Linked DNA regions of Homo sapiens. The protein of the gene in region 3 interacts with the protein of the main gene of each other region in a pairwise test. Each region holds a gene or a part of one and is shown on either strand. Other genes may lie near its edges. The genes, in order: UBE2W, BLK, BIRC2, RFC5, HSP90B1, PPM1K and EAF2.

The links.
Region 1: the proteins of BIRC2 (region 3) and UBE2W interact in a two-hybrid assay, tested with the Homo sapiens proteins (one large-scale study listed by BioGRID and IntAct).
Region 2: the proteins of BIRC2 (region 3) and BLK interact in binary tests that used the Homo sapiens proteins (3 or more experiments, as listed by UniProt).
Region 4: the proteins of BIRC2 (region 3) and RFC5 interact in binary tests that used the Homo sapiens proteins (3 or more experiments, as listed by UniProt).
Region 5: the proteins of BIRC2 (region 3) and HSP90B1 come close enough for resonance energy transfer, tested with the Homo sapiens proteins (2 studies listed by BioGRID).
Region 6: the proteins of BIRC2 (region 3) and PPM1K interact in binary tests that used the Homo sapiens proteins (3 or more experiments, as listed by UniProt).
Region 7: the proteins of BIRC2 (region 3) and EAF2 interact in binary tests that used the Homo sapiens proteins (3 or more experiments, as listed by UniProt).

Annotation. Positions count from the first base shown.
Region 1 is NC_000008.11:73,805,288-73,809,780, forward strand, and holds part of UBE2W (ubiquitin-conjugating enzyme E2 W), read right to left. Parts: intron 440-4,493; coding exon 364-439; intron 1-363. UniProt on the Homo sapiens protein: Accepts ubiquitin from the E1 complex and catalyzes its covalent attachment to other proteins.
Region 2 is NC_000008.11:11,559,885-11,563,233, reverse strand, and holds part of BLK (tyrosine-protein kinase Blk), read right to left. Parts: intron 1,933-3,349; coding exon 1,782-1,932; intron 256-1,781; coding exon 124-255; intron 1-123. UniProt on the Homo sapiens protein: Non-receptor tyrosine kinase involved in B-lymphocyte development, differentiation and signaling. B-cell receptor (BCR) signaling requires a tight regulation of several protein tyrosine kinases and phosphatases, and associated coreceptors.
Region 3 is NC_000011.10:102,374,082-102,378,574, reverse strand, and holds part of BIRC2 (baculoviral IAP repeat-containing protein 2), read right to left. Parts: intron 1,080-4,493; coding exon 825-1,079; intron 719-824; coding exon 677-718; intron 586-676; coding exon 392-585; 3' UTR 1-391. UniProt on the Homo sapiens protein: Multi-functional protein which regulates not only caspases and apoptosis, but also modulates inflammatory signaling and immunity, mitogenic kinase signaling, and cell proliferation, as well as cell invasion and metastasis.
Region 4 is NC_000012.12:118,019,096-118,023,588, reverse strand, and holds part of RFC5 (replication factor C subunit 5), read right to left. Parts: coding exon 4,453-4,493; intron 3,958-4,452; coding exon 3,821-3,957; intron 2,684-3,820; coding exon 2,604-2,683; intron 1,304-2,603; coding exon 1,230-1,303; intron 1-1,229. UniProt on the Homo sapiens protein: Subunit of the replication factor C (RFC) complex which acts during elongation of primed DNA templates by DNA polymerases delta and epsilon, and is necessary for ATP-dependent loading of proliferating cell nuclear antigen (PCNA) onto primed DNA.
Region 5 is NC_000012.12:103,933,410-103,936,909, reverse strand, and holds part of HSP90B1 (endoplasmin precursor), read right to left. Parts: intron 2,955-3,500; coding exon 2,623-2,954; intron 1-2,622.
Region 6 is NC_000004.12:88,274,561-88,279,053, forward strand, and holds part of PPM1K (protein phosphatase Mn(2+)-dependent 1K), read right to left. Parts: intron 4,083-4,493; 5' UTR 4,024-4,082; coding exon 3,584-4,023; intron 2,684-3,583; coding exon 2,583-2,683; intron 2,218-2,582; coding exon of another isoform or gene 2,177-2,217; exon of another isoform or gene 367-2,176; intron 1-366. UniProt on the Homo sapiens protein: Serine/threonine-protein phosphatase component of macronutrients metabolism.
Region 7 is NC_000003.12:121,869,390-121,873,882, reverse strand, and holds part of EAF2 (ELL-associated factor 2), read right to left. Parts: intron 1,347-4,493; coding exon 1,095-1,346; intron 895-1,094; coding exon of another isoform or gene 839-894; exon of another isoform or gene 817-838; intron 1-816. UniProt on the Homo sapiens protein: Acts as a transcriptional transactivator of TCEA1 elongation activity. Acts as a transcriptional transactivator of ELL and ELL2 elongation activities. Potent inducer of apoptosis in prostatic and non-prostatic cell lines.

The DNA.
Region 1 (4,493 bases), on a different chromosome or scaffold from region 3:
TACTAAAAATACAAAATTAGCTGGGTGTGGTTGCACATGCCTGTAATCTCAGCTACTTGGGAAGCTGAGGAAGGACAATCGCTTGAACCCAAGAGGCAGAGGTTGTGGTGAGCCAAGAATAACACCATTGCACTCCAGCCTGGGCAACAAGAGCAAAACTCCATCTCAAAAAAAAAAAAAAAAACAAAAAAAACTAGGGTAATTCATCCATTAAATATATTAGAATATTTTAAAGAATTTTCTTCATATAACATAAATATAACACCAATTATAGCTTCTCTTCTTTTTCCCAAGTCTTATAGCAAATATATATAATCTTCATATCAAAATGCTAAAAAGTTATTACAAATTCAAACTGCTTACCATGATACCACCATTTTGTTTTCTTTGGATTCTTGTTACATGTTCGCACATAAAAAGAATTATCCGGTGGTCGTCTCTGAAACAAAAAATAATTTAAATAGGTTGAAAAACAGAAAAACTGAGAGGGTGACAGTTTTAATAAAAGCTTAAGAAAAATTAACAGAATGCATAAAAAACAATATAAACATGAATAGTATATCTAAAAGAATAAAAACTATAAATGTATTCCAGGAAATGTGTATGCTTAACACCTAAATTTAAAAAAGGAATAATAAGCGTGTTTGAGTGTGGTCTGTGTTAGGTTCTAGCCTGGCCAACATGGTGAAACCCAGTCTCTACTAAAAATACAAAAAAATTAGCTGGGCATGGTGGTGCGTGCCTGTAATCCCAGCTACTTGGGAGGCTGAGGCAGGAGAATTGATTGAACCCGGGAGGCAGAGGTTGCAGTGAGCCAAGATTGTGACATTGCACTCCAGCCTGACAACAGAGCGAGACTCTCGTCTCAAAACAAACAAACAAAAAATTAAATAAATTATAAAGGGAATGAAAAAGGACTGATGAGAAAAGTCAAATTCACATAATAATTTAAACATAGCCGGGCGCAGTGGTGGGCATCTGTAATCTCAGGTACTTGGAAGGCTGAAGCAGGAGAATTGCTTGAACCCAGAAGGTGGAGGTTGCAGTGAGCCGAGATGGTGCCACTGCACTCCAGCTTGGGTGACAGAGTGAGACTCCATCTCAAAAAATAAATAAATAATAAAACAAAGGGCCAGGCGCGGTGGCTCACGCCTGTAATCCCAGCACTTTGGGAGGCCGAGGCGGGTGGATCACGAGGCCAGGAGATCGAGACCATCCTGGCTAACACGGTGAAACCCTGTCTGCTAAAAATACAAAAAAAAAAAAAAAAAAAATTAGCCGGGCGTGTTGGCGGGCGCCTGTAGTCCCAGCTAACTCAGGAGGCTGAGGCAGGAGAATGGCGTGAGACTGGGAGGCGGAGCTTGCAATGAGCCGAGATTGCGCCACTGCACTCCAGCCTGCGTGACAGAACCAGACTTCGTCTCAAAACAAAACAGAAAAGTCTACTAAACTAGATTTGTTGGGAGAAGTATAGCAATGTACAAACCTCCACAAAGAACTGTTTTTACTGTAATAGAATACCATCAAAGATAGACCAGAAGATTCAGTTTCTAAACAATATTTAAGAGAAAAAATGGGAAAAATATATATTGGCATTTCTACTATAATTGGCCTTTCTGCTGAACATATGCCCTGACTAGAACAATATATGAGAAATATATGGCAGCTCCGCAAGGGAGCTACCGCAGATAAAGTGATGCCAACAACACTGAAGATATATTATGGAAGAGACTTTTCCTGAAATTTGTTGCATACTGCCTAGACAAAAGAAAATGTTACCCTCTACAAAGACTTGGAAACATCAAATTTATATTAAAGCTATATTAAAGTTTATAGATACTATGATAGATATCCTTATCCTTTAGTCTCCTTTATGCCTTTCGGAATCATTCCAATAACTTGATTATTTTCCTATCATTAAATATTGTATAGTGTATATGCAGGATTTATTTTCAGACTTAAATCTGCTTAGCTAAGCTAATGAAAATGAGAGATTAAGGGAATCCTCTCCTCTACCTGAGGCTAATGAAAATAAGTGAATTTGGTATGACATCATTTAAGGAAAGTCTAACCAGAAAGCAATCGTGAGTAGGACTCTGTGATAGCAGGAAGGAAAACAGTTAGTCCATTTGGCACTTCTAAAACTCATATATGTAACTATCAGTCTAGTTGAGCCTCACAATGCTCTTATGTGTTAATATTAGTAATTTCATTTAACAAAAAGAAACATTAGAGCATAAGACAGTCAAGACATTTAGGTATTCCAAGTCAATCTGTGGACACAATTTGAGAAAATTCCTAAAAAATGAATATTATGAAATTAGATGCCTGACTACTTCAAGGAAGGGATGATTCTACAAAGTTAAATCTATGTTCATATGGAATTGGTACTACTAGAGCAGATACTTTCACAAACTCATTTTATGTATATGTTGATTAGAACCCAAGAATCATCAGAAAAGTCTTCAAAAAATACATATTTAGAAAAAAGAAATACTCAATTCTATTTGCTTAAATCATTTATCTCCCTGACAAATGATCAGGGAGATACAGTTCTTGGAAAAGAAACTATACAAAAGAAGTCTTACGAAATTGTTTTAGGAATGGGATACAAACTGAAAAGTTTGAACAATGTAAATATATTACAAAGGCATGCAAATAAAGTGGAATTTACTGAAAGTCCTGTGATCTCAATATCAGAAATTATCTTTAATCCACTACAATCTAATGACATACTGGATTTAAATACCTTCAGTTTATGGAACCACTCCTGACTGTGTAAAAGGAAATTGGAATAGAAGAATTATGACTAAAGTCCCAAACACCTAAAGTAAAATATTTAATAGTAGTAGAATTAACAAAGTAAAGCCCATAGAACCATGTCCACTACGGAATAAAATTTACCCGTTTTAATAATAATAAAACGTGTAGATGGGTATTTAAAATACTTTTCTTTTTTCTTTTTTGAGACAGAGTCTTGCTCTATTACCCAGGTTGGAGTGCAGTGGCGTGATATCAGCTTACTGCAACTTCAGCCTCTGGGTTTAAGCAAGTCTTGTGCATCAACCTCCCAAGTAGCTGGGACTACAGGCATGCGCCACCACGCCCAGCTAATTTTTCTATTTTTAGTAAACAGGGTTTAGCCATTTTGCCTAGGCTGCTCTTGAACTCCTGGCCTCAAGTGCTCCACCCTTCTCGGCCTCCCAAAGTAGTAGGATTACAGGCGTGAGCCACTGCACCTGGCCTAAAACACTTTTTAAGGTTTCTTTGGAGCTTAGATCTCTCTAATGCCAGATCGTCTCAATGCCAAGGCAAATTTCCTCTTCATCTTTGTAACTTATCACTTAGCACAGTAAAAGTAGCACATACTAGGTACCTAGTAAATGTTTTTTGAATTTTATCGTATTTCATGGAAATCTTGATTTCTGTATTATCATCTTGGTTAAATATTATACAACTATTACAGTAAAAACATAGTTTATTAGTGCTTTAAATGGAATGATTAGTCTTATACTAAGTGTACAAGAAACACTAGTAGCAGACAACTAGAATGTAAGGGGAATGGTGAGGGTTAGAGGAAGATGAAGGAAGTACACAGAATATAGTCATTCTCTAGTTTTTAATAATAAATCATTATATTTAAATGTAAATAAAATCTAATAATCATGAGGCACATGCAAGACTATGTACAGATATCGCTGACATTAATCTCTTAATAACTTTCTTATTAAATACTGTTGTTACCGTCTCACCTTTCTATAGTCTTTAAGCGTAACAGGAACATAGAAGGCCTTGTACCCACAAACTGCTTTGCCCTACACATAAAAGTTTAAAACGTGTGTGTGTGTTGGGGGTGGGTGAGAGGAGAAAATATAACAGCAATAAGCAACAAATGAGTAAAAAAACAAAACAAAACCAATTTAACCTATTATTTCACATGCTGTGGCTTAGAGTGCTTCAGATTCTAAATAACCTATCATTAAAAAATGAACTATTATCTTAAAAGTTCTCCAAATACTAATTTAATAAAAATGACAATCAGTTCAATTTGGAGAAAAGGAAAGAAAACTGTAAAACACAAATAACTCCCTAACCTCTAGGGCAAAGCTGTTTCTCCTTTAAACAGAATGCAAAAGGAAAACCCTCATAGGGATTTAAGAGGGGTTTTAAAATGTAGAAATACATAAATGTTATGCTATACTAACCCTTAAGCAGGAATGACAAGAGTGTCAGAAGTGTACAGAGGATTCAGATACATTTAAAGGGTATCCTAAATTTATATGTATATTTTAAATTTATTTCATTATTATTTTCTTGAGATGGAGTCTCGCTCTGTCACCCAGGCTGTAGTGTAGTGGCATGATCTTGGCTCACTGCAACCTCCTGGGTTCAAGCAATTCTCCTACCTCAGTCTCCTGAGTAGCTGGGATTACAGGCATATACCATCACACCCAGTTAATTTTTGTATTTTTAGTAGAGACAGGGTTTCACCA
Region 2 (3,349 bases), on a different chromosome or scaffold from region 3:
CGTCTTCGCTCTGGGACTCACTCTGAAAAGAACAGGGCAGCCACAGGCACCAAGCACAGGCGACCTGCCATCAGGGCCGGCCGGGAAAGCAGGGAGCCGCGAGCTGCGGGGTGAGCCACCTACCTGGGTATGGCACCCGCCCATAAGTGACAACTTCCATCAGGAGGACTCCAAACGACCACACGTCTGCTTTGATGGTGAAGACCCCGAAGTGGATGGCTTCCGGGGCTGTCCACTTGATGGGGAACTTGGCCCCTGTGGGAAAAGCCATGCAAGCTTTGGGAGGCCACGGCCGGTGGCCCCTACCCTCCATCCTCACCCCTACCCCTGCTCCTGCTGTCCTTCCATCAAGCCCCCACTGCGGGGCCTCACAGGGCGGGGCGGCCAGGCATGGCGGGGGAGCCACTACCGCACACCAGGACACATGACCAGGTGAGTGCAGACACGACATCAGCAGCACAGAAAGACGATATGGACACCAATACCACACAGTCACCCACTTTGGTTCTTTAAAAAGAGAGCGATGGCCTCAATGGGCAGCCACCACGTTTCCACCTGGGATGGAAGGGGCCTGTTTCACCTTACAGGGGCCTTGTTTAATTTAAAAGACATGGCCTGGGCAAGCCATTTAAACCTGCGGGCGCCTCCGTTAGTCCCTTCCTGCAAAATGGAAATGGTGACACTTGTACCTCCGAGGGCCGCTATGAGGAAGAACTCACATCCGGCTGCCCTGTGAAGCACCTCAATGGCTGCAGCCCCGGCCAGCATTTGGAGCAGACCTCAGGGCTTGGCACTTCACAGCCTCCCCTGGCCTCCATTTCTCGGTCTCCCCAGCCAGCCTGAAGTTCCCGAGAGAACAAGCCATATCCTGTCTGCTTGTCATCTGACTCATAGGCTCAGCAGACACTGCTTGCTAGCTTGATAAATATATGTGACCCCTTCAGATTCTCTTGTGACGTAGATTTCCACCTCAGTTATATGCACAGAGTAAAACAGTGCTCCGTGGACACCCTAATACAGGTTGGTTTGCTGATCGCACATGAGAGCTGTGTTTCCCACAGTGTGCTCTGTGAAAGCCTAATTCCATGGAAGGTTAATAGGGACTATATAAAAATAGTATTTGGGCATGGCTTACACCTGTCATCCCAGCGCTTTGGGAGGTCAAGGCAGGCAGATCACCTAAATTCAGGAGTTCGAGACCAGCCTGGCCAACATGGTGAAACCCCATCTCTACTAAACATACAAAAATTAGCCAGGTGTAGTGGCACACGCCTGTAATCCCAACTACTTGGGAGGCTGAGGCAGAAGAATTGCTTGAACCCAGGAGGCGGAGGTTGCAGTGAGCCAAGATTGTGCCACTGCACTCCAGCCTGGGTGACAGAGACTCCATCTCAAAAAAAAAAAAAATAGTATTTGGAGCTCAAATTAGTTTGGGAGGCACTAGGTGAGGCAAACATAAACTGTTTCTTTGCTGCAGGACTTCTCAGTGCCTTTAATATGTTGATGTGCACTGGGAATCTCCAAGACAGGGAGTAGGGTGGACTGCTGTTTCTCCAAACCTACCTTATCCTAAAGCTGTTCCTCCATGGGAGGTCTCAGGGCACTACCATTCTGCTGAACACATTTGGGTAAATGAAGGAAATGCTGATCTAGAGCTGTAGAAACCGTATAGCCCTCAGGTGTCTTCCCTCAGGGCTGTGCTGGGAGAAGTTAAAGGCGGCTTTGAGGAGCTGGGAAAGATAAGGCCCTAGGTTTCCCTTGTGGTTAGGGGCTGTGCTTACCCTCTTGGGCCGTGTATTCACTGTCGATGATTCGAGCCAAGCCAAAATCAGCAATTTTGCAGCACAAGGCCTCAGACACCAGGATGTTGGCCGCCCGCAGGTCGCGGTGGATGGAATTCATGCGCTCAATGTATGCCATCCCTTCAGCAATCTGAGGGAACAGGCACATGGTGAAGGACAGCCTGGGGGCCTCCACGCCAAGACCGAGCCCACACTGTGTCCCCCGCACAGCCCCTGTGGGCTGCTGGGGAAGGAGCTGTTTCTTGGATGGAGTAGAAAGGTGACTGTGTTGCTCCTCAGCCGAATAAACTCCTCTCCTAGAAGCCCAGAACAGCAACGCAGCAACGTGGGCATCAGAGACACAGGGGCTACCTGTGCCCCTCCCCCTCCTCGTTCTCGCTCCACACAGCTGTGTCCAAGGGTCTGCAGAGATGGAAGATAGAAGAACACAGGCAGGAGAAAAGGAGAGGGAGGGAGAAGAGAAGAAATGGTAAGGAAGGAGGGGGAGGGGGAGCAGGAGGCAAGGACAGGCAGCTCTCACTGGCTGGCTGGAAGCACAGCTCCTGGAGCTGGAGGCCCTCGGGAAGTCGCTGACCTCTAGCAAGCTGCTTAACCTCCCCGAGGGGCCACAGTCCTGACATGGAACATGAGGGATGTGGTCTCCAGGGCAGGGGGTTGAGGCAAGCATTAGACGAGGTTGATTTGTGACCAAGAACCTCACCCAGCGCCTGCCCCGTGGGGGCACCCAGGGAGCACTGGCAGATCCAGGTGGACAGAGGCTGTGAAGAAGAAGAGACTTGTCTCTCCTCCCCTGATCACCAGCCTGGGCCAGGGATAGCAGCTGGTGCTACTTGGCACCTTTTAGCTGAGGAAACTAAGGCTTTATTCACCCAATCAATGGACGAAGAAACTGAGGCAGAAAGCAGAGACCCCATTTACCTCTTCAGACATGCGACTTCAAGAAGCCAGCACTAGAATTGATTCCACTTCTCCTTATGCTTGCATTTTGTTGGTTTATCTATGAATCCATCCATCTATCCATGCATCCATCCATCCATGCATCCATCCATCCACCCACCCATCCATCCATCAACACATCCATGCATCCATCCATGTATCCATCCATCCATCCATCTATGCATCCTTCCATGTATCCATCCATCCATGGATCCATCCATCCATCCACCCACCCACCCACCCATCCATCCATCCACCCATTCATCCATCCATGCATGCATCCATCCATCCATCCATCCATCCATCCATCCATGCATCCATCCATCCACCCACCCACCCACCCACCCACCCACCCACGCATCCACCCATCCATGCATCCATCCATCCCCTTGCTACACCATGCAATCAATACTCATTTACTAATATGGGACTGTGGGGAATATAAAACTGAGTACTAAATATATCTGGGCAGCATCTAACAGTACTCGTTCTGATAACTAATATTTATTGAACAGTACCAGAAATATATTTTAAAAAATGTTGAGTAGGGCCCAGATCTGCTTTCAAGAAGAAGCTGCCCAGATCTGCTGAGCAAGAACAGTGCTTCCGGG
Region 3 (4,493 bases):
ACAATTCGGCACCATAACTCTGATGAACTCCAGAGTTCCTGGTTTCCAGTTCTTTTCTACACTATAATTTAGTATTCAAAGCTTTCTGAAAGAACAACAAATCCAGTAACTCCTGAAATGATGCATAACAAGCAGTGACACTACTCCCTTAGGTACACATACATACTAATATAGTTCACCAAACATAAATCTTCCCTTGTAAATAAACAGATTAAGATTAAATATATGATACCATCTTTTCAGAAACAAGATTATTAGTACCAAAGCAGACTAGAACATGAATGTTACTAATTGAAAAACTCATAATTCCCTTTTTACTTTAGATGGCTTCAAGTGTTCAACAATATTTTAAAGACCTTTTTATGCAGGTTAAAATATAGACTATTTTTCTTTAAGAGAGAAATGTACGAACAGTACCCTTGATTATACCCCTGCAAATAGGGCATTTTCTTAGAGAAGGGGCACATTCCTGGCATACTACCAGATGACCACAAGGAATAAATACAACAGAAACTTCTTTGTCCATACACACTTTACAAGTTCGTTCTTCTTGCAACCTCCTCAATTGTTCTTCCAGTGACAGACCTAATAACAAAAAATAACTTTAGTGAAATTGTTTCCACTTCATTAAAAAAAAAGGGTAATAGTTCATGTTGGTTTTAAATCTTTGTTTTACCTGAAACATCTTCTGTTGGAATATACTTCATATTCTTATCCACTGAGGAAAGAAAACATAAAAACCATTACTCTACTAAATACAAAACTGAGCCACCGCATCTGGCCAGTCCTAAGAATTTCTAAAATAATTTTCCCAACAAACTCACCAAATAAGTTCTTATACAATGTAGAGTCAATTTCTTTTAGACAGTTTTTGAAGATGTTGGCCGCAGCATTTCCTTTAACCAAAATGGTATCAATCAGTTCTCTCGCTTGTAAAGGTATCTGTGTTTTTTGTTTAATAATATCATGTTCCTGTTTATTAATTACATTGGCCTTTAAAAGATTATCCAGGATAGGAAGCACACATGTCAATTGTTGAAAGAGAGCCATTCTGTTCTTCCGAATTAATGACAAATCATCTTCATTAAAAAAAGAAAAAGAAATCCATTAGATTTTAAACTCCTTTAACTATACTCATATAGTCACTAATAACCAACCCTACAAACAATTTAGGCACTAAATAAAGTTCAAAAAAGAACAAAGTAACTTGTTTGCATTTGTAAGTTTGTTGTTTGGAAAACTTCCAGAGGAAGTCTCTGTTTAATTTTTAAGTCTATATATTTACATGTCCTAGAACTCCGCTTTTACTTTATTTTGTTGCAAGAGATTTGTAGAAGACAGTAAAAATTTCCCCCCACCATATATAATAATACTCTTGTATTTCCATTATATCATTTTACTTTTGTAAGCACTTTCATAGTAATTTGTCTCATTTGATACAGTGATCCTGTCAATTAAACAAGGCGAGTATTACTGCCTCTCATTTTTACATAGGGAGAAAAAAGACTCAGAAAAGAATGAGTGGCCTAAGATCACAAGAAAGAATAAGCTGCAGAACCAGGCATCCTAGACCAGTGTTCTTTTCAACACCCCATACTTAAGACGTGGTATTGTAGTATTGTAGGGTTTGAGTTGCCAAGTCAAAACAGACCTAGGTTCCAGTGTTGGCTAGGCCCACTCACTAGCTATGTGTCCTCATCCTTCCCCATACACCTCAGTTTCCTCATCTGTAAAATATACATAACGGTACCTTCCTCAAAGTTGTAAGGATTGAATAATACATGTAAAGCATCTGGCACAATATGTGGTACATAGTTAACTACCATTATTATTTTATAAATGTCTATGTTTATAGCAATTAAAAAAAACTACCTAAGAATCAAGCCTGACCTTTTTTTAAAAAGCCAATGTTTTTCCTTTAATATCGCATCACATAAAACTCCACAGTTAATTTATATTTATGGAATATGGTAGTTCCTTCTTTTGGTATCTGAATCATTATAAAATTTGTCTATTTTCAGACTTTCAAAAAAATTTAAAAAGTACATCTCTACAAAGTACCAGTTTAATGAGAAATAAATTATAAAAACAGAAGCCTATCTTCTTTCCCCTTTTACATCTCTCTAGAAGTGAACTGCTCTATTAATCTCAAAACTATAAAATTCCATTCTGTGACAACTTTTTCTTCTACCTAAATAATTCCTCTCACTGCTAACCAATTTGTTCTTCACCTTTTCAAGATCTCCATGTCATTCCCAATTCTACTTGCACAAGAGCTATCTCCTGGCTTTGCTTCAAACCTCCTATTCTAATCTAGGTAGCAGTCAGGTATTTCAATGAAGTTCTCTATATTAGCACCCTTAACTCATCTTCCGTATTCCTTACTTGCCCTTTCCCCTATTAACACTGCCAAATCTGTAATTCAATACTATTTTCCAACCCATACAAAGTATGAGAAAGTCATAAATCTAAGGTGACAGTGATTTCATATAACCTTAGCTGGATTTCATTACTACTTAACAATCCTTAAATTGACTTTTCTTAGGCCCTTTCTTTCACCAAGTCCCTCCCACTTCCCAAGTCAATCTACCTAATGCTTAAAAAAAAAAAAAAATTGACGTGCTAGGAGCTGTGTTAAAGTGTTTTATTTGCAATATCTCATTTAATTCCTACAGCAACCCTATGGGAGTCATACTATTATTATCCCCATTTTACAGATGAGAAAGCCGATGTCTGGTTGAATAAATAGCCAAGCTAGTAACTGATAGAACTGGAATTTTTTTTTTTTTTTTTTTGAGATGGAGTCTGGCTCTGTCACCCAGGCTGGAGTGCAGGGGCACGATCTCGGCTCACTGCAAGCTCTGCCTCCCGGGTTCACGCCATTCTCCTGCCTCAGCCTCCCGAATAGCTGGGACTACAGGCATCCGCCACCATGCCCGGCTAATTTTTTGTATTTTTAGTCAAGACGGGGTTTCATCGTGTTAGCCAGGATGGTCTCAATTTCCTGACCTTGTGATCCGCCCGTCTTGGCCTCCCAAAGTGCTGGGATTACAGGCATGAGCCACCGCGCCCAGCCTGGAGCTAGAATTTAAACACAAATCTGTTTCAATGTAGAAGTCCAGACTTTAAATATTTTGCTACACGGTCATGCAATAAGGTACTCTTAAGTTATTCCTGTCTTTACTTACAAGCTTAAAAAGAAAGCATCTTCCAACGCAATACTCCAATACATATGCAACCTTCGCCTCTCTGCTGGCCCTTTAACCCTGTCTTTTGCACACTAGTCTCGCCAGCTAGTGTATATACTCCTTGACAGCAACCACTGTGATTAGGCACAGTATTTGGCACTGGTGCTCATGCTCAACAAATATTTATTGAAGGAGGGGAGGAGCCAAGATGGCCGAATAGGAACAGCTCCGGTGTACAGCTCCCAGCGTGAGCGACGCACAAGACGGGTGATTTCTGCATTTCCATCTGAGGTACCGGGTTCATCTCACTAGGGAGTGCCAGACAGTGGGCGCAGGCCAGTGGGTGCGCGCACCGTGTGCAAACCGAAGCAGGGCAAGGCATTGCCACACTTGGGAAGCCCAAGGGGTCAAGGAGTTCCCTTTCCGAGTCAAAGAAAGGGGTAACGGACGCACCTGGAAAATCGGGTCACTCCCACCCGAATATTGCGCTTTTCAGACTGGCTTAAAAAACGGCGAACCAAGAGATTATATCCCACACCTGGCTCGGAGGGTCCTACGCCCACGGAGTCTCGCTGATTGCTAGCACAGCAGTCTGAGATCAAACTGCAAGGCAGCAGCGAGGCTGGGGGAGGGGCGCCCGCCATTGCCCAGGCTTGATTAGGTAAACAAAGCAGCCAGGAACTCGAACTGGGTGGAGCCCACCACAGCTCAAGGAGGCCTGCCTGCCTCTGTAGGCTCCACCTCTGGGGGCAGGGCACAGACAAACAAAAAGACAGCAGTAACCTCTGCAGACTTAAGTGTCCCTGTCTGACAGCTTTGAAGAGAGCAGTGGTTCTCCCAGCACGCAGCTGGAGATCTGAGAACCGGCAGACTGCCTCCTCAAGTGGGTCCCTGACCCCTGACCCCCGAGCAGCCTAACTGGGAGGCACCCCCCAGCAGGGGCACACTGACACCTCACACGGCAGGGTATTCCAACAGACCTGCAGCTGAGGGTCCTGTCTGTTAGAAGGAAAACTAACAAACAGAAAGGACATCCACACCGAAAACCCATCTGTACATCACCATCATCAAAGACCAAAAATAGATAAAACCACAAAGATGGGGGAAAAACAGAACAGAAAAGCTGGAAACTCTAAAACGCAGAGCGCCTCTCCTCTTCCAAAGGAACGCAGTTCCTCACCAGCAACGGAACAAAGCTGGATGGAGAATGACTTTGATGAGCTGAGAGAAGAAGGCTTCAGACGATCAAATTACTCTGAGCTACAGGAGGACATTCAAACCAAAGGCAAAGAAGTTGAAAACTTT
Region 4 (4,493 bases), on a different chromosome or scaffold from region 3:
GCAGAACAAGATGCCGAAGAAAGGCTGCCAAGCTTCTAGGACCAGAAGATATTCTCGCTGTCCTCCTCCTCCTCCTCCTCCCCCACCTCTCCTCCTCCACCTCCCCCTACCCTCCTCCTCCGCCTTCTCCTCCCCCTCCTCCTCCTCACCCCCTCCTCTTCCTCCCCTCCTCCCCCCTCCTCCTCCTCCCCCTTCCCCCATCCTTCTCTTAACATGTGCTGCCATCTACTCCCTCGCCACAAACTCCTAAAGATCGTTCTTCTCTCAAAGCTGATTCACTTGGAATCTTAATGAGAGATGACAAGTGTCCTTTAAGAGAAAAGAACTGCGCTAGGCCCCTGAAGACAGACAAATCGCAGGGTGCTGTCCCTCCCGCTGCCAAATCATTCACTTGGCAAGCAGTGAAGTAATATCAGCTCTCTGAGCACCTCAACTTCAGATATGCTTTTCCTAGCCATTGTGGTTCAAAGGGTACCATTAGTAGAAAGGAGAGGGTACTATTAGCAGAAGGACTATCTGATAGCTTAAGGATGAAAGATTTTCCACACCCCATCCCACGGAAAGATATGAATTCCCAACTCTGAAATTGAACCCAGTGTCAAAGGAGGTTGAACACCAGTGACTGGCCAGACTTAAAAGTCCCCGCAGGGCTTAGTCCCTAGGCTGCTGAAGGGGAAGTCCCGCTACAGAGGTATCTAGCCTGTGTCATTAGATGGGAGACACAGAGAAAGGCATAGAGATTTCTCTGGGCCAGAAGATGAAAACTGAAAACAAGCCAAGCCATATCTCACATCCTAATTCTCCTGTAATCCCAGCACTTTGGGAAGCTTAAAGTTCCTAATTCTCCTGTAATCCCAGCACTTTGGGAAGCCGAGGCGGGCGGATCACCCAAGGTCAGGAGGTCGAGACCAGCCTGGCCAACATGGTGAAACCCCATCTCTACTAAAAATATAAAAATCAGCCGGGTGTGGTGGTGCATGCCTGTAATCCCAGCTACTCAAGAGGCTGAGGTCAGAGAATCGCTTGAACCCAGGAGGCAGAGGCTGCAGTGAGCCAAGATTGCGCCACTGCACTCCAACCTGGGTGACAGAGCAAGACTCTGACTCAAAAAAAGAAAAAAAAACTCCCCCCCGCCTAAAAAAACAATGACAACAGCAACAAACACAAAGTTCCTAATTCTCCTTCCAGTGTGCACACCAGCCCAAACGCTCCACAGTGCCTCTGCTTACCTCTTCTCAAGGCATTCTGGGCGTCCTGAGTCATGGCGTCTGCTTCATCCAAGATCACTAGCTTAAAGCCTTTCCTAGAAAAACAAATGGTGCTGTCTAAAGATTTCTTCAATCTCATCTCAACATCTGGGCTCAAACCTATATCTTCCCATTGTGCCATCGGGCCCTGTCTCAGAAAGACAATTTCTTCTAGAACTTTGGCCAAGGCAGACATCTTTGGTCACTCAGAGAGGAAATGCCGCATCACTCCTTCAACCCTTGGTGGGAATGGAGGAGACTTCTCTACTTCTGTGCGCTGTGTCCTCTGGCATCTTCACTTTCCTCCACATGGCACCCTACCATGCTACTGCTTTTCCCGTCTCCCTCACTCATGCCTGAGTCCCTCACCCTTTTGCTTTTTTTGAGACTAAGTTTTTGCTCTGTTGCCCAGGCTGGAGTGCAGTGCCGCGATCTTGGCTCGCTGCAACCTCTGCCTCCTGGGTTCAAGCGATTCTCCTGCCTCAGCCTCCTGAGTGGCTGGGATTACAGGCGCCCACCACCATGCCCAGATAATTTTTGTATTTTTAGTAGAGACGAGGTTTCACTATGTTGGCCATGCTGGTCTTGAACCCTTGATCTCAGGTGATCCACCTGCCTAGGCCTCCCAAAGTCCTAGGATTACAGGTGTGAGCCACTGCGCCCGGCCCTCACCCTTTTTCTTTCTTTCTTTTTTTTTTTTTAGCCACCATCCTAGTTGTCCTTCCTGATCTCAATTTATTTTTAAATTCAAACTAGCTCATCCAGTCTTAGGGTAATCTAGCCAGTTCTCAGGAACTAAAAATGAAGTTAATGCTCCCTAAAGAACTTGGTAATGCAGGCTGGGCTCACGTATGTAATCCCAGCAGTTTGGGAGGCTGCGGCGGGCAGATTGCTTGAGCTCAGGAGTTCGAGACCAGCCTAGGCAACATGGCAAAACCCCATGTCTACTAAAAAATACAAAAATTAGTTGGGCGTGATGGCTCACGACTGTAGTCCCAGCTACTTAGGAGGCTGAGGCTGGAAGATCGCTTGAACCCAGGAGGTGGAGGTTGCAGTGAGCCGAGATCATGCTACTGCACTCCAGCCTGTACGATACAGGGCGACCCTGTCTCCAAAAAAAAAAGAAAAAAAAAACAAACTTGCTAATACAAGCGTAGATAACATTTTATTTTAACAGTTGCATTATAACGCTTCTTACTACCATCCCTCTCGTTTATCTCTTTTCCATGGTTGCTTTGGACAAAGTCACTTTTTTTTTCAACCCATATAAACTGGCTAAGGAGAGGATTAAAAAATTAACCCATATCATCTTACTAATCAAAATCAAGGGAGCGAAATTACACAAATAATTCTTACTTAAATATTGTCCTTGTGCTAGCAAAGCTCAGGATCGGTCCTCGAATGATGTCTATTCCTCGGTCATCTGAAGCATTCAGCTAAATGTGGAAGACAGAAGACAAAACAAAAACCATGTTGCTGTGCTATCTGTGAGTTCTTGGTGTTAGTGTATTTCCTCATCAGTCCAGCTCAGCAGGCTAGCTCTCTATGTCTAATGATGGCTAAGAGATCATCATAAAATAAAAAATCAGTTTTACACAAAATTCACTAAATTAATAAAGATGGCTATATTACCCCCACCCTTTGAGGACAATGACTGACATAAATTGGAGAAATAATTAATTGGTATGGTTACACTGAACAGCACCTCTGGTATGAGCAGAATGATACAAATTTCAGCTACCACAATCCTAAGTTACCAAGTTCTTAATAAACTGAAATAAGGACATTAGTAGCAGCAAAGTTCTGAGACCTGCGTCTAAAAAGTAAGTTAAACTTTTCTTGCAATAGACAATACTCAGATTTTTGAATCTAAGTATATTAGTCAAGGTCCCAGCAATATACAGATGGCATACTCAAATGCAGCAATTTGAAGAGAATTAAACAAGATCTTTTTAAAGGTGTGATATAGGAAAACCATGGGGCTATGCAATACCTGTCACCCTTGAGCCTGAAGGGCTTAGTGAAGGGAGTGGCTGTAGGCACCTGGAGAGGGCTGCAGGAAAGGTACCACCTGTGAGATGTACCCTACAGGTGGGCCATGCTGCCAGCCTGTGTCAGCCCCCAGGGAAGGCCCAGGCATCACTCACTTCCTTCCCCCACCCCTGCCAAGGCCCCTATTGGCCAAACCCAACCAGGAGCCAGAGGGTAAGTGAGCTTATAGTCAGTAGGGCTCAGCCTTCCAGGCAGGAATATGGTGGAGAAACGTGGAGAATTGATCTAGAGGGGCCATGGCAGACAGGCAGCAACCAAGTCACCATAAAGTAAGGTTTGGGGAGAAGTTGGCAAGAGCAAAGAAAAAGGTGCCAAACCCTACAACTGCCCTCTAGCTGACCAACGCTAATCCAGACCAAAATGACCATTATAGGAAAAAGGGAATTAAAATATTCAAATTTACTTCTTTCCTAACTGTCCGTGGGGCAACTTACTTTTAAAGTAAAATAAAACCAGCAGAACTGAAATTAAGAGACTGGAGTCTCTTAAGTTATTTGTAGAGTAAGAACAATCTTATTTACCTCCAAGACCATGGAGCCAAATTCTTTGTCTTTATATAGCTGTTTCGCACAGGCTAGGATGGTAGATGTCTTGCCTGTCCCTGGGGGACCGTAGAGAAGCAAGTGTGGCAGTCGGTCTTCATTGATAAACTTCTGAACTGAGGATCAGGAAGGAAGAAGGGCACCATCAGTCTTTGGGAGCTGCCTCATTCACCCTGGGCTCCTGAGTTGGGCTGAAAGCTCTTCAACCCAATTCAATGTCCAAATCAGAGGCAGATACAACTTGATGTAGGGGCCTCATATCTACTTTCGTGGAACAACTGGAATTCACTCAATAGCGCAGCCAGTCAACAAGTATTTATTGAGTGCCTACTGTGTTACAGGCACCTTTCTGGGTGCTGGCAACATCTGTGAACTTAAATGATTCTCCGTAATGCTATTTTTACTCCACTGTGTTGCAATTTTATGCTCATGTTTGTGACTTACCCACTGGACTGTAGCAACCTGAAGAAAATGAATGAATGATCTTAAAGCCACATTCTACAAAGCGCAATCAGATTCTTTGAAGTTATTACTTAGGAGAGACAACATCACCAAGCAATTTATACAAGTCGCTCAAGCAGGACAAGAGCAACTGACACATGAATACTTACTGGTACTCAGAATGTCCTGATGAGAAATGAGATCATTCAGG
Region 5 (3,500 bases), on a different chromosome or scaffold from region 3:
AGTGGTACCTGGCCAATAAGTAGCCATGATATGACAAAGCCTAGTGAGTGACTAGGCCCCTGGTCTCAGAGCACATGTTCTAGTGATTTGGGGATTAAGAGTTCAGTTTTGGATGCAAGTAGAAGCTGCTGGTTAGATATCTTAGGTAGAAGCATTTAAAAGGCAATTAAACACATGAACACAGAGCCCAGTAGTGAGACCTAGACAAGGGGCTGGCAAGCTATAGCTGTACAGCTGGCACCCATTAGAAATTTTATTGGGACACTTTTTTTTTTTTTTTTTTTTTTGGACCTCTGTCACCCAGGCGTGATGATGGCTCACTGCAGCCTTGACCTGCCAGGCTCAAGCAATCCTCCTACCTCAGCCTCCTGAGTAGCTGGGACTACAGGCATGCACCACTGTGCCAAGCTAATTTTTTATTTTTTATTTTTGTGGAGATGGGATCCCATTATGTTGTCCAGGCTGACCTCAAACTCCTGGGTTCAAGTGATCCTCCCACCTCAGCCTCCCGAGGTGCTGGGATTATAGGGATGAGCCACCACACTTGGCTGGGACACATCCTTATGTATTGTCTATGCCTGCTTTCAAGCTAAACAGAGTTGGGACATGTGACAGACCATATAGCTCACAAGCTAAAAATATTTACTAGCTGGCTCTTTCTTTCTTGTTGTTTTCTTTTATCTTTTTTTCTACTAGCTGGCTCTTTTAAGAAAAAGTTTGCTAACTCCTGATCTAGGCTAAGAATATAAATTTGAGAACTAGAGATGGAACCTGAGGCCGTGGCAGTGGATAAGACTACATAAAGATCACATGGACAATGAGAAAAGGGCTGAAACTTAACTTGGAGAAAATGTATGTTAACATTTAAGAAGTGGGCAAAGGAAATTTTTAAAAAGATATGCATGGTCATGGAAACTAGGTCCTGGATAGGTGTTAGCAGCCATCGTTCCCTGCATGGAACTGTCCTGTTTAACCTCACTTATTCATACAAATGGCTGCCAATTAAGTGTTAAGCTTTGGGAATGGAGCTTCCAACAAAATGTTTGCCTTCATGGAGCTTATATCCAGATAATTTCACCTGCTTCTTAGCAACCTGACATTAACATCTCTTGGGACATCACTTTCTATCTTTCCTTGGGAATGATTGCCCTATCCTTCTCCAACATCTAGCCCAGTGCTTAAAAAGAGAGGGCACTGGGGCATAACTCTTAGTGATGCCTCCAAATGAAACCTGGAGACATCAATGTTAGTGACGAAGGCAGGGGAAGGTAAATTGGGAACACAAGTTAAAAAAGTACTAAAATGCAGTCATCTAATTAGTCTTCATTAAAAGAACATCTGCTGCAGTAAAAACAGGAAATGTTACTTTCTAGGATGAAGAAAGTTGGTCACAATGATAAGTATGTGCTTCTTTCCCTTAATGTTAAGAAAACTTAAAACTGAATTAAGAAAAAAAAATTGAAGCTGTGGGCACATTCTGTTACTCACTTAGCAGGAGTTGGCAAGCCAACTGACCTCTGAAATAGAATTTCCTCATCTCCAAGATGGTAAAATTTTAAAAAGGCAAAAAGCTGCCCTGTCTACGTCACAGTGCTATAAGCAACGAGAGCTACTGTAGGGCACTGGCTCTGTCTCACCCATACAAACAACAGTTACTGGCTTAAGAGGGATCTTAATTCAAATTTAAAAACTTGTAACTATCCTTAAATGACGTATTTTATTCCACAGCTTTCACAACTTTCATGAACTTTCTTTAAGCCCTTTATCTCTACAAGCCAGCCCCAGCCCTGGTTGCTACCACTCATCTTGAATATTTTCAAGAGGAATATTTCCCCCAAAGAGTCTCCCCTTGTCCACTCCTCACATCCTCCACACCACCTTGAGAATCTTAAAAAGTTCATCACATTCTGGCTGGGCACGGTAGCTCATGCTTGTAATCCCAGCACTTTGGGAGGCCGAGGTGGGTGGATCACGTGAGGTCGGGAGTTCGAGACCAGCCTGGCCAACATGGAGACACCCCATCTCTACTAAAAATACAAAATTAGCTGGGCGTGGTGGCACATGCCTGTAATCCCAGCTACTTGGGAGGCTGAGGCAGGAGAATTGCTTGAACCCAGGAAGCGGAGGTTGTGGTGAGCCAAGATTGTGCCATTGCACTCCAGCCTGGGCAACAAGAGTGAGACTCCGTCTCAAAATAAATAAATAAATAAAAGTTCATCACATTCTATCCATAACTGCCACCGAAAAGAACTCTGTTCATCTAGTGAGCATGCTATGCCTCCATGCCTTTATTCAGGATGCTCCACAGACAAATTACTCTTCTAACCTGGGAAACTGACCAAGCAGTGCCTCCTCTGTGGGTACCCAAGAAGCCTTCTCCCTTGGGGAAGCTGCTGCTATTTCCTACTTTATACCCTCCATGTACAACAGCAATCACAAACCTTTGTGCCTGGCCCTTTGCAGGTCCTCAAACATTTCTTCAAGTGACAACAGTTCTGTTTCCTCATTTTATAAGGCAGGAAAATTAAGGCCCAGAATAAGTCATTTGCTCAGAGAATAGAACTGGAGAGTCAAGATCCTCACCATGACTATTAATTCTTATAAGGAATTGGTCATACTCACGTAATTGTCGTTCCCCGTCCTAGAGTGTTTCCTCTTGGGTCAGCAATTACAGAAAATTCATTGGAGTCAGACTCCCAGATGTGCTGGGTATCGTTGTTGTGTTTTGAAGTGACAATAACCTTATCTGCTACAAGGAAGGCGGAATAGAAACCGACACCAAACTGGCCAATCAATTCAGAAGTTGACTGGCCATCTTCCTGTGCTTCAGTCATTTTGTTTAAAAACTCGCTTGTCCCAGATTTGGCTATGGTACCAAGGTTTTTAACCAACTCTTCTCTGGTCATTCCTACACCGGTGTCTGTGACATGCAGCAGGTTCTTCTCCTTATCACACTAAATGCAAGACAAGAACCAGATAGTTGTATTTAATATTTACATTATGCCAAACAAATATTGAGGAACTAACCAGCTTTGGGTCCCATCAATTCCAATACAGAAAACTAAACTGAGATATTTTCCTCCACATAGTTTTTTATGGCCTTTTCTGAAAGTGTACATCTTAAAGTAATTTATGTATTTGAGAAAGTATTAATATCAAATGGGCAGACTGGCCTAAATGTCAAAGGTTAGAGGCTGACCTAAATAAAACAAGTTACCTTTGAAGGAAAACAATTCAAGAAAAATAAAATTTTATGTCTTGCCTATTTCTTTACTAGAATACAAAACAACTTGAATGATTCCTCTATTTGGAATCTGTGATGGATCATTAATATTCTTCACTCAATATTCCTGGCTGTCTGCCTTCCAGAAACTTAGGAGTACTCTACTTTCCATTTAAGAATGGCTAAGGCCATGTGACTAGTTTTGGCCAATGAGTTATAAATGGCCAATGAGTTGTAAAGGAGAGCTCTGTTTTCAGGCTGAGCCTTTAATTATAAT
Region 6 (4,493 bases), on a different chromosome or scaffold from region 3:
GAGGGTAAACTGCACTTACTACAAAATTTTGTTTCACTGGCACTGGTCCTATCTATATACATAGGCCGAAAAGAATATTATCCACTCTTATAATACTGATACTGCTTCAGTTCTTGCTAAAAACTAAAGTTTTAAACTTAAATAATAACTTTGAAATTTAAAATGACATTTTAAAAAATCCATAAACTGAACAGTTACACAACATATGGCATTCTATCTTTAGTGGCTTTAATGTATTTGATAAAATAGGCCCTAAATATCAAGACAATTTTTGCCATCTTTGAAGGCTCTGGCAACTTATCAAGAATAAAATTTTTAAATGTTCTCAAAACACTAATTTTTAAAAAACACAGACCGATAAGAATATATACAAAATAAGATTTTAATAACAAATAACAAATTTAATAACAAAATAAGATTTAATAACAATATTATAATAGACCTTTTCTTTTAGTACACACTAAGAGCATCATCTTGTCTTGCTCCATTATACTTTCAAACAAATTACCATTATATGAAAAATACATTTTAAAATATCTTAAGAATGTTCTGGGATCATTACTTCAAAGCATATGATAGAGGAATTAAATTAAATAATGCATTTTAATTTCTTTATTACAAATGAATTGATTTTAGTAAGAATAAAAAATATGGAACTCTTCATGCATTTGTGTGCCATCCTTGCACAAGGACCATGCTGATCTCTGTATCATTCCAATTTTAGTGTATGTGCTGCTGAAGTTAGCATATGAATTACATTTTTGTGATTAATTTCTTTATACAACTGTTTAATGTTTTTGTGACAAAGGTATCTTTAGAAAGTTTCTTTTAAGATAGGCAAGTTAATTAAATTCTTTAAGTTCAAAATTCTGTTGAGTTATACTTCATTCAATAATAAAAGGAGTCCTGTCATATTTTACATCAAGTCAATCACCGATTGGTTTAAGCATCTACATTGACTAGATACTTTTAAAAGAGGCTGATGGCATTGAGAAGGCCAATGTTTTTGGTTGGTGGTCACATGCCTGGGATAAATTTGGACATTCTCATCCAAAAACCTTGCCCAGTAAGCTGCAGCTATTTACAGAACAGCTGGGGCACACCACCGACACTACAGTCAACAAACATTGTGGTGTGAGACATAGCCAGATGCACAGCCAACTCAGTTACTATGAAATAAGAGCATACCAAAATTCAGGAAGTAATAAAAATAAAACCATAAGAAAATATTTCATTTCCTCTTTTCCTTCATGTGTTTTAACTATTTGGAACAAGAGCTAAGTCTTATGCATAAAGTTTACCTCTTTCAGCTTCTGTCTTCTTAAAGGTAAGGGTCCAGTTGAAAGGAAAAAGAAAAATTCCAAAGGAATGAAAGAAAAGAAAATGGGCCTAAATGATCTACAAACTGGAAAACATATCCCTGAAGAGAGTGGACTGTAATGCTTTCCTGAGGAGTGTGATAGTAAGGTTCTCAAAAAAAGCTCAGGAAAAAATCTCAAGATGGTAAATAGAGCCATCGCAGAGTTACCTTCTCCTCTCCTCATGAGAGAAGAGAGATAATGCTGGTGGTCAGGAAAATCCCAGCCCTAACTCTGAACTGACCTTTACCACTCTAATCTTCAGTTCCTTCGCTGTGAAATGCAAACAATCTCTATCCTTATGTATTCCAACTGAAGACTGTGCAAATGACATTTCTGTGGTGCACTTGGTTTCTTTCTTTTTTTTAAGAAAAGGATGAACCAAATACAGATCAAGATTATTGCATGATTCATTTTCAAATCATTTACAAGGTTACATGCACACATTCATTTGGCTGGTACAGAAATTTTCAGGGTTAACTTTAACAGCAAAAGATTTGGGACTAGCTAACTAGAAAACGTTTGCTGAATTTTCGTGAAATGGTTTTGATAAATTTAGTCAAAACCAGAAACATTTCACTTTCAAAATTTAAGGACATACAGTACACAAAATTTTAAATTCAGCTAGCATGACCTTATGCTGAAAATATCACTAGTTACCAGAGAAAAGCTGCAAGATTGAGCTTTTTAAGAAGTGACAGAAAAATATTTTCCTTCTAGTTATACAAATTAGTGCATATTAACCATTGTCTTTTTCTATTTAGGACCTATTTGCAATTTTTTTCTTGTTGGACAATGACTGTCCTCGCTAGATGTGATTACCCTGTAGTGTATTTCAGCACTTGGTCACCAGATCCATCTAAAAAAAAAACCAAAAACCCAAAACAAAACTCATAGTATGGACATTTTGTCCATAAAATAAGCAAACAGATTAAACATTTTTAAAATCTTTTAAAAACTAAAGTACAACATCAGAACTGTTTCGGGGCTTCTCTTTCTGAAAAATTCTCCAATATATTTCATTTAAAAGTGAGGTATTAACATTAATTGGAGTTCCCAACAGCATTTAATGTGATTCTTCATATAAACTCATTTCTACATAAATCCTTACAAACAATTGTCCATTAAAATCCCCTCCCCCAAAGGACTTAAAGTGTTTCCTTTTTACTCCTCCCCCACCCCATGTACTCCCTAGGATCCAAGGAATGTGATAGTTTTACATACCATCAGCAGACAGGCGGGCATGACTCGAAAAGGCTTTATCTATTTCTAGAAAAGCCAAGGTCAACAGAGTTTCCAAGTTCTTCTCCTTAGGAAGCAAATCCCTTTGTGGGGAGGAAAAAAAGAGCCTTAAACAATCATTTTACAATAGGTTTTTCTCCTCACTGTTACTCTAGCTAGCAGTCATTCCACACAACGGGCCTCAGGATTTTCCTGTCAAATGCTGAAGACCTACTGGCTAAGGAATACCTATTGAGAATCCACAAAGTATCAGGCACTGTGATAAGCTTTTAAGGGCACAACAATGAAAGTCCAAGTCCTTGTCCTTGAAGAATTGATCCTCACTACCACAACCCTGAGAGGTCGAGAGTTCCTTCCCATTGTGAGTTCTTTCGTGGAATGCGGTATACACAGGAAGTCAAGAAATGGTCACTGGGAAGTCAAAAATAGTCACATGGTCGTAACTCCATCACATGTTCTCCCTCTTTCAATTTTAGCAGTAATGTGATCCTCAAAAATGCATTAATACTAGTTGAAGTAAATAAACGGAAGAGCTCCAAAATGCCTGCATTAAATGCATTTTTCCACACTAATGCCAATCATCCAAAGCTATTTTCAACAAGTCAGGTATTCAAAGCTATTCACACCACTTGAAAGAGTAATTACCATTTACTGAAGCACTTATCTGTCCTACACTGATGGGAGTAAATGCTTCTCATAGGTTATCTCATGTACATTATGCCACTTCACTTAAAATGATCACAAATTAAGTGCTATAGATTTTGGTTAATGCTTTCCCCAGGGGAGTTGTTAAAACATGCATTTCTGAAATTGTGATAACCATAAGTAATAAATGGCACACTTAAACTACTGCTCATTCGTGAAGCAGCAGCATGCAACCACTCAAGTAACTATGTTTACGCTGGAAGCCTCAGCCAAAGGGTGAAAGTTTAAGTAGGAAGTATAGGAACTGCAAAGTCAGGAGTGAAAGTCATTGTACATACATAATACATTTCTCCATGTGGGTATGACAGAAATCAGCTGCTGCAGGTCCACCGTGTCCATCATACACTGCAAAGTACAGGACCTCATCTGTCAGCTGAGCGAAGTCAAACCGATCTTCATTCTCTTTCCGTTTGCCAATCTGTGAGGCGCACCCCACATTTTCCAAGCTGATTTTGGGAATTGGCTTGCCATACTTAATGCTGGGTGGCAGCAGAATTGGCTCATCAATGCGGTTATCCCAGATCCCAAAATTGTCCCAGGTAGCTGGACTCCCACTACCATCTGGGTCAAACCGAGAACACCTAGGCTCTGAAGTGGAGCTGTGGCACGTGGGTGTCACCCGCCTGTCGTCCTGCAGCAGGCGGGAGCTTAGCAGCACTCTCCTTCTCACCTGGTTCCCACCACTTCTGACCAAAGTAATTAAGGCAGCTGTTGACATAACTCAGCTCCAAAGGACTCAGTGATGAGGGAAAGGTCAATGGAACAATAATGGAATGTCTTCAAGAAAAATGATGCAAGTCACAGGGGACAGAGGGAGAGAGGGGCAGAGGAGGAGAGGGAGAGAGACAGAGAGAGAGAGACCATCAGAAATTTTGAATATAACTGATATGTCATCAAATATTACCAAAAATGAAGCTCATAAAGGATTTGACAGAAAATACATATATTTATGTTATATATTGGGTAGGCATCCAGTAGCCTGCTTCTAAGAACAGTGGATCAAAAATGAATCGATTTTCCTACCGCATTCACAGCATTTAAATTCTATAAAAATTTAACAGTGTGCACATACACAGAACATGTATCTCTTAAACTTGAACCTGCAATCACTTGTTAAAATGCATGTTCTGACCCAGTGGCTATGGGGTGGAGTCACTCTGCATTTCTAACCAACACCCTGGTGATACA
Region 7 (4,493 bases), on a different chromosome or scaffold from region 3:
TGAAGCTTCTTAGCTTCAGAAAGGTGAAGACTTTCTAGAGGAAGTAACTTTGAACTATAATCTAAAGGAGAAAAAATTATGTGAAAAGAAGAAAGTGTTTCTGGCTGAATGGACAGCATGTATAAGGGTCCTGATGTGAGTGAAAGTATTTGAATATAGTGGCAAAAAGAAAGCACATGTTGTTAGAAAAGAAAAATCAAGACGATTATGTTAAGGTGTTTTGCCTCTATATTAAAAGAAATTACAAGCTATTAAAAAGTATAAAGCAGAAGAGATGACAAATTGTATTAGAATTGTGAAAAAAATCAATATGGCTACAGTGTACATAATGGATCAAAAATGGGCTTGACTACATAAAGGGGTGAACCAGTTAGGTCATTGTAGTAGGTAAGGCAAGAAATAATAGGTTGAACTACTGTGATAGTGGTGGAGATGCAGAGAAGCAGATGACTTTGAGAAATATAGAGGAGGCAAAACAAATAGGACTTGATGAAGGAGTGGCTACACTGTAAAGAGGAAGAACTTCAGCCATTGAAAATAATTAGACTTATGATTTGCATAATTAGATGTATGCTACCTTCACTAAGAGGTAACACAGTGAGCCAAAGATTGATTATGAGTTGGTTTTGGACAAAGTAAATTTGAAGGTGATGAGATGATGGGAGATGATGTTAAACATGTGTCTAAAGCCTAGAGGTTTGAATCAGAGATATAAATTTGCAAGTTACCTACACATAAGTATTGACTGCAACAGAAACATGGAGGAAGTTATTTAGGGAGAAATTGTAGAATGAAAAGAAAAAAAGAACCCAAAAGTAAGCCTTGAGAAACTCCAACTTTAATGACTGAGCAGAGGATCATATAAACTTGAAAAGGAGTGAGAGGAAAGATTATCTAGAGAGATGGGAGAAAAACCAAGAAGGCATTATGTCACAGATTCAAAAGAAAACCATAATTCAATAAAAATGTAATTATTAATAGTATCAAATGCATAAAATAGGAATCTTTTTCTTTATCCAAATATTAGGTCACAATCAATATGGCTCCACTATAAATTCTTACTTTTCCAATTGCCTGTGTTTATGTATACTTACTTAAAGTATTCATCAGAAGGCCACTGTTGTCTCGAAATCTATTATGACTGGCATCTATATCAGGAATCCTGTACTGTGTCATGGTAGGATGTCCTGAGACACAATTCCCTGTATCAGAAGTAGAGGATTTGCAATCTTCATCTTCTGAGTCACTAGAACTATCCTCACTACTTGAAGATGATGAACTTTTGGAATCTGATGAACTATCACAACTACTCATCTGGTCCATTAGACTAGCTTCTGCCTTCAGTTCTGAAAATAAGACAGAAATGAATAGATAGGTTAAATAAAAAATGCTAAATAAATATAATAAAAATTGAATGTATTAGTTTTTAAGAAACTGTTGAAACTAAAATCAAACATACATTTACAGTACTTGAAGCATTTTATTAAAAAACAAAACTCTTCTACCATCAAGCCATACTTCAATGATTGGATTACAGAAACTAAAAGGGATAGACAAGGTCTAAATCTAAACTCCACATTTATTTAAACCATTGTACTTAAGTATACAGGTAACTCAAATATAAAGTAAATACTGTGAAAAACTATAAAAATTAAAATCTATTTTGGCAGAAACTGTCTTCTGATTATTTTTTGTTCCTTTAAATACATATAATATAATGTGATAATGTAACAGATGAACTTCATTCTTTTCCTGGTTTTCCTAGAGAACATTTTGATGAAGCATCTATAGGTTTCCCCCCTGCTCCCTTAATAAGGATTTAAAATATTCTAAGTATTTTTGAAGAGCCAGTTCCCATTATAACTTTGGCTATAAATATTTCTGTAGATAAAAAGAATAATAATGATGTCTTCTTTTGTTTAGCATTTTTCAAGTTCTAGATACACAAAAAAATTATAGTTGGGAAGGTCTTCAGCTACCATTTAGAACAACTTCATAATTTTATAAATGAGGGAATGAAGATCCAGAAATGTCAAAAGCTGTCAGTTATTTATGAGTGGAGGCAAATCTACTGACTTTTAAGTCAATATTTTCCCATATGATACAAATGTCAAATAGTTGAACAAAATTTTTTAAACCAAAAAATGCTAAGTGAATAATACACTCAGTTAACACATTGACATTTGATATCATCTTAGTACACTGCTACATTAAGTTAACTGGTAATTTTTAGCCCACTTCCTCATTCTCCCTATTATAGACACACTGGCTTTCTATTATTTGACCACATTAAATCCATTTCCAGGCTATGTTCTTCGTACTAGCTGTTTCCTCTGCCTGGTATATTCTTCACCCAGATCTTTTGTTTGTTTGTTTAATACATAATTTCCATAAAGTAAAATGTACAGCTAGATAAATTTTAGCATGTATAAAACCTGTATATCTACCACTGAGATCAATATATAGAATATTTCCATTCCCATGAATATTCTCCTATGCTCTTTTCCAGTCACTAATCACCATTTTGACTTTTATTACCAAAGATTTTTGTCTATTCGTCTATTCTTGAACTTCATACAAATAGATTCACTCAGCATGTACTTTTTGGTCTGCCTTCTTTCAACATAATGTTTTTATATTTACTCATGTTATTGAATTAATCTGTAGCCTATTCTTCTCTACTGCTATGATATTATATTATATTATATTATATAAATATACCACAAGTTAGTTACCCATTTTCTACTTATGGATATTTGGGTTGTTTTCAGTTTTTGATATTATTAATAAAGTTGTTATGAAAATCCCTTTACAAGTCTTTTTGAACTTATATACACATTTCTCTTAGGTAGAAAGAGAGAAATTGCCAAGTCACAATAGGCATAGGTTTAATTTCATTAAAAACTCCCAGTTTTCAAACTGATTTTACACTCCAACCAGCAAGGTATGAGTCACAGATGCTTCATATCTTCCCTCACTAGGGCACACACACACTTGGTATAGTGAGTCTGAAGGGTGTACAATGGTATCTTCTTGTAGTTTTAATTTTCATTTCTTTGATGTGATAATATGAAGCAGTGTTTTTTTATATGCTTACTGGCCATTTGAATATCTTTTTTGAAAAGCCTGTTCAAATCTTTTGTCCATTTTTATATTTGTTTGTCTTTTTCTTACTGATTTGTAAGAGTTCTTTATAGCTAATTCTTCTGGCTATGAGCCCTTTGTCACACTTTTGGCATTTGTGAATATTTTTTCCAGGTTCCCCCAAGTCTGTAGCTAGGCTTTTCATTTCATTAATGGTGTCTCTTGAGAAGATTCTAGATCTCTGAAAGGCTGGCTCCTTCTTGAATCGGTTTAAGTGTAACCTTCTCAAAAGTTTCCTTCTTCTCCATTCTCCAACCCCCATTGCTTAGTTTAATTCTCTTCAAGACACTTATTTCTGAAATTCATTTGGATACTTATTTGTTTACTGCTTGTATCTTCCCTACCCTCCCTCTCACCCTCATCCATACTCCTAAATAAAATGTGAGAATAGCAATGTTGTCTTGTTCATGTTGCATAATTATTGTTATACAATGTTGGATTCAATTTGCTAATATTTCATTGATAATTTTTGAGTTTAAGTTCATCAGAGATATTGGTTCATAGTTTTCCTTTTCTTGTACTGTCTTTATCTGGTTTGGGTATTAGGGGTAATACTGGCCTCATAAATGAGCTTAGAAATATTCCTTCCTTTTCCTTTTTCCAGAAGAGATTGTGTAATGTTGGTGTTAATTCTCTTTAAATGTTTGGTAGACTTCTTGGTCTGGCTATTTTTGGGGTGGGTGCTTTTTAATTACTAATTTAATTTATTTAATATTGATAGCACTATTCAAGTTGCTTACTTCGCCTTAGTTGAGTTTTGGCAGTTTTTAGCTTTTGAGGAACTAGTCCATTTCCTCTAAACTGTCAAATTTATGAGCACAAAGCTATCATATTTCTTTTCTCTTCTTTTTAGATAGGGTCTTACTCTGTCACCCAGGCTGGAGTGCAGTGGCACAATTATGGCTCACTGCAGCCTCAACCTCTTGGGCTCAAGCAATCCACTCACCTCAGCCTCCTGAGTAGCTGGGACTACTCAGGTGCACACCACCACGCCTGACTGCCTGAGTAATCTAAAAAAAAAATTTTTTTTTTTGTAGAGACTCTGTATTGCCTAGGCTGGTCTCAAACTCCCGGGCTCAAGCAACCCTCTTGCCTTGGCCTCCGAAAGTGTTGGGATTACAGGTGTGAACCACCACACCCAGCCTACCATTTCTTTATAATACTTTTAATGGCTACTGGATCTATAGTAAATTCATTACTTTCCTGATTATAGATAGAAGTTGTACTTTACATTCCTGATATTCGTAATTTGTGCCTTCTGTCTTTTCATTTTTATCAATCTTACTAGAAGTTTATCAACAGTGTTCTCCGATGACTGCCTTTTTGTTTCATTAATTTTCTCTACTGTT